2 linked regions of the Homo sapiens genome follow. The protein of the gene in region 1 purifies or fractionates together with the protein of each later gene. This does not show direct contact. Each region holds a gene or a part of one and is shown in the gene's direction. Other genes may lie near its edges.

Region 1 (2,660 bases):
ATACAAATGTCTATGTCTATATACACATATAGACATACACATAGACTGTGTCTATGTCTATATACACATATAGACATATAGACATTTGTATATATATAAAGTTGTTATATATGTCTGTTTGTGTGTACTTCTATCTATATGTGTATGTTTGTATGCTTATGATATAGCCTGAATCTTCTACATATTGTTTCAATTCATATAGCTTATCTTTTCATATCAAAAATTTTATTGTGCTTATCTGATTAAACAGAAATTACAAAACTGTTCCTGTCGTGTGAAATTTGTTGAGCATGCTTTACAAGACATAATGTTCAACTTGGCTTTCTTAAGACTGCAGGATTCCGAAATATCAGCACTATAGTAGTAGAACTATTATGACGATTGTTACTATTTTAATATTAAACATCAAATATTACCCTAGGCATATATAAAATCTTGTTGCATGGTGCTCAGGTGTAGCAGTCTTTTCCCTAAAGATTTGCTTTCAAAATTAATATGTAAGTTCCACAGGCCTTTATAACATCTTAAATGAGAATATTAATAATCTTTTGAGTTATTTACATTTTATTTTCTAGTACCAGATTCATGTTTTCTTGTCATTAAAGATGCTCTCAAATTAAAATAGGTTTTTATGAAAGCATTCTATATAAATTTTTTTTTAGAAAGAGGAGATAAATACAAATGTATTTTATGGATGTTTGAATAGAAATATCACATTTGAAAGCAAAGACGAAAATAAAGCCAATTCTAAATTTTTTAAATCTAGAATGAATTTTTACTATACACTCCTAAACTGTTCTAAAGTTCTTTTGAAATGAAGGAAATGCATGCTTAGTTAGTATTAAGATAGGATGATAACCATCCTGGTTTGCTCAGGATTGAGTTTCCCAGGATGACAGGACTTTCAGTGCAAAACTGGGAAGAGTCTAGACAAACTGGGATGGATTGGTCACTCTGTATTTATGAGCTAATCTTGATATCTTGAAATTATGAACATTTTTGCCTTATATAATGCCATTGGAATCATATTTTGTAAACCAACTAATAATTTGAACTGTTTCTTTTTCTTTCCAGATGCTGTCTATGTACTGTGCTACTCTTTGATTCTACTTTCCATTGACCTCACTAGCCCTCATGTGAAGAATAAAATGTCAAAAAGGGAATTTATTCGAAATACCCGTCGCGCTGCTCAAAATATTAGTGAAGATTTTGTAGGGCATCTTTATGACAATATCTACCTTATTGGCCATGTGGCTGCATAAAAAGCACAATTGCTAGGACTTCAGTTTTTACTTCAGACTAAAGCTACCCAAGGACTTAGCAGATATGGGGGTTACATCAGTGCTGGTCATTGTAGCCTGAGTATACAATCAAGCTTCAGTGTGCAACCTTTTTTTCTTTTGCCATTTTCTATTTTAGTAATTTCCTTGGGGAACTAAATAATTTTGCAGAATTTTTCCTAATTTTGTTTATCACGTTTTGCACAAAGCAGAGCCACTGTCTAACACAGCTGTTAACGAATGATAAACTGACATTATACTCTAAAAGATGGTGTATTTGTGCATTAGATTTGCCTGAAAAACTTTATCCATTTCCATTCTTTATACAAATACCATGTAATGTGTACATATTTAACTAAAGAGATTTATAGTCATAATTATTTTATTGTAAAGATTTTAACTAAAGTTTTTCCTTTTCTCTCAAACTGAGTTCTGAAATTTATTTGATTCTGATCTGAAACTATTGTCTTCGTAAAAGTTAGATCTGACTTCAGACAGAAACCAATACCAGCTTCCTTTTCCTTTAAACTTTGAAGAGTGTTGATTTGTTACTATATTACTATGCAAAACTGGCAGTTATTTTTATAATATAAATTTATAATTTGATTTTTTATTTTAAAAACTGGGTTAATCAAGTCTCGGTAAGTCCTTTAAACCATTTAGGATTTTTAAAACATCAAAATTTATGATTTACATTCATAGGAATAAAATAAAATATTATTAGAACTCTGGTAAATGTTTGCTTGCTTATATGTGGTGTGATTATGCAAACTTTACTATTTTTGTAATCTTGATGATCCCCGTTCAGAGTCCATTGAGAAAGACATATTGTGAAGAACAGTAAACACTCTTTACTCATTGGTTCAGTGAATGTCTATCCAGGGCTTTACATGTGTTAACATTGTGCGAGGTACTAGACATGGGCCCTGCTCTCACAGATAATACATAACTGGGTACTGAGAAGAAAAAATCTGCTGAATGGAGAGCAACTATATGAAGTATATCTTAATTAACAATTATTTAATAGTTAAAATATGCAGCATTAGAATGATAGAGAACAGTGTAGTTATATGGTAAGTTAAAAGTGACCTCCAAGTAAAAAGCATAACCTTAGGAATGAAATAGTATGTGATGGGTTGAGCTACTAGTTTAGAGGAGGGAGTTGAGGGAGGTAAAAACTCCTTACTAGAGGTATTGAATCCTGGCTTCCTTCCAGATCTGACCCTTAGTCAAAAGTGGTTGTCAATATTACAACTGGAATGTTGTACTACAGATTTTTCAAGGACAAGACATACGATAATCAAATTTTGAATGTCTAAGGGACTTTTAGACTGATAGTAAATAATTTCTAAGATTCTGAAGCAAATATCCAAATCATTT
Region 2 (3,650 bases), on another chromosome or scaffold:
TATATTTCTTTTCTTTTTTTGTGACCCTGCTGCCCCACACAGCTCTTGAAACATAGTAGGTACTCAGTTCTGACCATTAAAAAGTTCATCCTTATATTGAACTGAAAGCTTCTTTCCTTTCCTTCCTATCCTTTGGTTCAAGTTTTATCCTCCGGAGCAGCATAGTAACTAGTCTGTCTTCTCACAGCTCCCCCTCTCCTTACTGCAAATCAGCTTTTTGCAGTATTCGAAGACATCTATCATTTTGCCCTAAGTGTATATTTCATCAAGCTGAATAGTTTTATTCTGCTAGCTCTTCCTCCTGGACCTTCACTATCTTAATCCCTCTCCAGTTTAATGTGAGATACAGCCCAACCCTTGAAGCCACCATCTACCCAGGGCCTGTTTTTACACCAGCCTATAGTTCTAGTTTCTTGCTTTATCAGGATTATTCTTGGAACCTCAATGTATATGTGAAGCAAAGCAATGTTATACCAGAGTTGTTACTGAATCCTTAAGGCTGGTTAATAATTACCTCTTGCTTTATAGTGAATTATCACAATGTAGTGGCTTATGATAACACACATTTACTATGCCACTGTTTCTGTGGGTCAGATGAATGGGTCCTGGTTAGCTGGGTTCTCTGCTCAGTGTCTCCAAATTTGGCTAGGCATGTGATCTCATCTGAGGCTCAGGGTTCTCTTTCAGTCACTGGTTGTTGGTAGGATTCAGTTCCTTACAGATGTAGGACTGAGGTTCCTGTTTTCTTGCTGGCTGTTGGCCAGGGGTGTCTCTCTCAGCTCCTAGAGGCCACCTGTGTTTCCCTGCCACATGACTCTGTACACAACATGATAGTTTGCTTCTTTGAGGCCTGCGGGAAAGCAGCTGCTGCCACTTCAGATCTCTCTGACTTCTGTTTGATTTTCAACTCTTTTAAAATGGCTTACTTGATTAAGTCAGGCCCACCCATACTCAAGGGGAGGAGATTATATAGGGTATGCATACCAGGGAGGTGGGAATCTGGAAGACCATCTTAGAATTCTATTTAACAAATCTCTTGGGGCCTTAACATTCTCACATTATTCATATCATTTTTGAGAACACTTCATTCATATTTGTTGCATAAATACTATATACCAAGCACTGTTCTAGGTACAGGGAATGCTGATGGAATTTACATTCTGGTAGGGAAGACAGGCAGAAAGCACTTAGATATTTAATATGTCAGGTGGTGATAAGGACTAAAAAGAAATATTAAGAAGGTTAAGAAGACAGAGTGACAAGAGTGCTATTTTACATAGGTTGACCTCTTTGATAAGGAGACATTTGAACAGAGACAAGAATGAAGTACAGAAATGCACCATGTGGCTAGCTTGAGAAAGAGCATTCTAGGCAGAGGGAGGAGCAAATTTAGATGTGGGGAGGGGTATTATAGGCAATGAAGATAGGGGCAGGAAAGGTGGTCAGAGAAATAGCAAGGGCTGGATCATGTGAGTCCCTTGGATTTGGTTCTGAGTAAGATGAGAGGCTGCTGGAAGGTCCTGGGAAGAGGGATGTCATGAACTTACATTCTAAAATAATCACTTAGGGTCTGGATGTGGTGGCTCACATCTGTAATCCCAGCACTTTGGAAGGCCAAGGCAGAAGGATTGCTTAAGCCCAGGAGTTCAAGACCTGCCTGGACAACTTAATGAGACCCCATCTCTGCAAAAGGCAAAAAAATAAAAATTAGCTGGACGTGGTGGCACATGCCTATAGTCCCAGCTACTCAAGAGGTTGAACTAGGAGGATCGCTTGAGCCCAGTGGGTCAAGGCTGCAGTAAGTAGTGGTTGTGCCACTGCACTCTAGCCTGGGTGACAGAATAAGAACCTGTCTCAAAAAAAAAAATATTATTAAGCTGCTGTGTGGAGAATAGGCTCTAAGAAGGCAACAGGACAAGTTAGGAGGCTATTGCAGTTGTTCAGGTAGGAGATGATGGAGACTTAGACTGGAGTAATAGTGTGGAAAAGGTAACAATTGGATAGATTTTGGATGTATTTGGAAGGAAGATTTTATGCCTGAGCAACTTAAAAGAATGGAATTGGCATTTACTGAAGTGTCAAAGCCTAGTAGAGAAAAAGGTGTTTGTCTGTAAAATGTTTCAGTTTGGAATAATTTCAGATTTATAGAAAAGTTGCAAAGATAGTTCAAAGAATTCCCATATATCTTTCACCCAACTTCCTCTAATGTTAACGTCTTACATAACCAGACTGCCTTTGTTAAAACTAAGAAATTAGCACTGGTATAATCATATTAACTAAACTACAGATGTTATTCAGATTTCACCAGTTTTTCTGCCAATGTCCTTTTTCTGTTTGAGGACCCAATCCAGGATACCACGTTGCATTTAGTCATGTCTCCTGAGTCTCCTACCATCTCTGACAGTTTCTTCATCTTTCCTTTTTGGAAAAGATGTTTCTGCTCTTGTTTTATTTACTTCTTATTCAGGGAAGATTTTTGTTTAATTTGGTTAAATTTCTGTAATCCCAGTACTTTGGGAAACCGAGTCAAGAGGATCACCTGAGCCCAGGAGTTCAAGACCATCCTGGGCAACAGAGGTAGACCCCATCTCTACAAAAACTAACAAAAAAATCAGCCAGGTATAGTGGCACACGCTTGTGGTCCCAGCTACTCAGGATGCTGAGGTGGGAGGATCGCTTGGGCCCAGGAGTTTGAAGATGCAGTGAGCCACGATCATGCCACTGCACTCGAGCCTAAACTTTGGTGACGCCTGTAACTTTCACAGAAAGAGGTTGTGGAACAGACTAAATATCACTCATTTATTCCTTTATCCATGAATTTAACAAATATTTAATGGAGCACCTAGTATATGCCAGACACTGGAAATACTACACTCAGCAAGGTAGACAAAACTCTCCCTTCTCCTGAGCTTTCAGTCTCAGGGTGTTCTCTATTTCTTTTGACATTAAACTGAACAATCAGAAAGTAAATCTTAGGAGAGCCAATATTATGGAATATTACAGTGTGCGCTTTTGAGTCAGATAGTTTGACAAGTTTGAATTTTGACTTTTAAATTTCTAGTTGTGTGACCTTGGATAAATGATCTAACTACATGAAGCCAGTTTCTTCATCTGTAAAATGGTACCTATGTTATAGCATTTTTTTTTTTTTTTTTTTTTTTTTTGAGACGGAGTCTCACTCTGGAGTGCAGTGGTGCAATCTCGGCTCACTGCAACCTCCGCCCCCGGGTTCAAGAGATTCTCCTGCCTCATCCTCCTTGGATTACTACTGGGATTACAGCCACACTCCACCACGCCCAGCTAATTTTTGTATTCTTAGTAGAGATGGGGTTTCACCATGTTGGCCAGGATGGTCTTGATCTCCCGACCTCATGATCTGCCCGCCTTGGCCTCCCAAAGTGCTGGTATTACAGGTGTAAGCCACCGTGTCCAACCTGTTACAGCCTTTTTGAGAGGACTAAATAATAATATGTAATGTGCTTGCAATGTTGTATTTAAGGTTAATTTTATTCTTTTAACTTATTTAGACCTGAAAGCAAATAACAATAATATTATGAAATAAATGCAGTGCTAAAAGTATGTACTCAAAAAAGCATATACACACACTCACACTCAGTTTTGAGAGTATCTGGCTGTATTGAAATCTAGAA

The links. Proteins that work in one complex are often made in the same cells at the same time.
Region 2: the proteins of FBXO8 (region 1) and NFX1 purify together in Homo sapiens (affinity purification with mass spectrometry, with the first as the bait; one large-scale study listed by BioGRID). This does not show direct contact.

The regions. Positions count from the first base shown.
Region 1 is NC_000004.12:174,236,014-174,238,673, reverse strand, and holds the end of FBXO8 (F-box only protein 8), read left to right. Parts: intron 1-1,074; coding exon 1,075-1,262; 3' UTR 1,263-2,016; downstream 2,017-2,660. UniProt on the Homo sapiens protein: May promote guanine-nucleotide exchange on an ARF. Promotes the activation of ARF through replacement of GDP with GTP.
Region 2 is NC_000009.12:33,296,928-33,300,577, forward strand, and holds part of NFX1 (transcriptional repressor NF-X1), read left to right. Parts: intron 1-3,650. UniProt on the Homo sapiens protein: Binds to the X-box motif of MHC class II genes and represses their expression. May play an important role in regulating the duration of an inflammatory response by limiting the period in which MHC class II molecules are induced by interferon-gamma.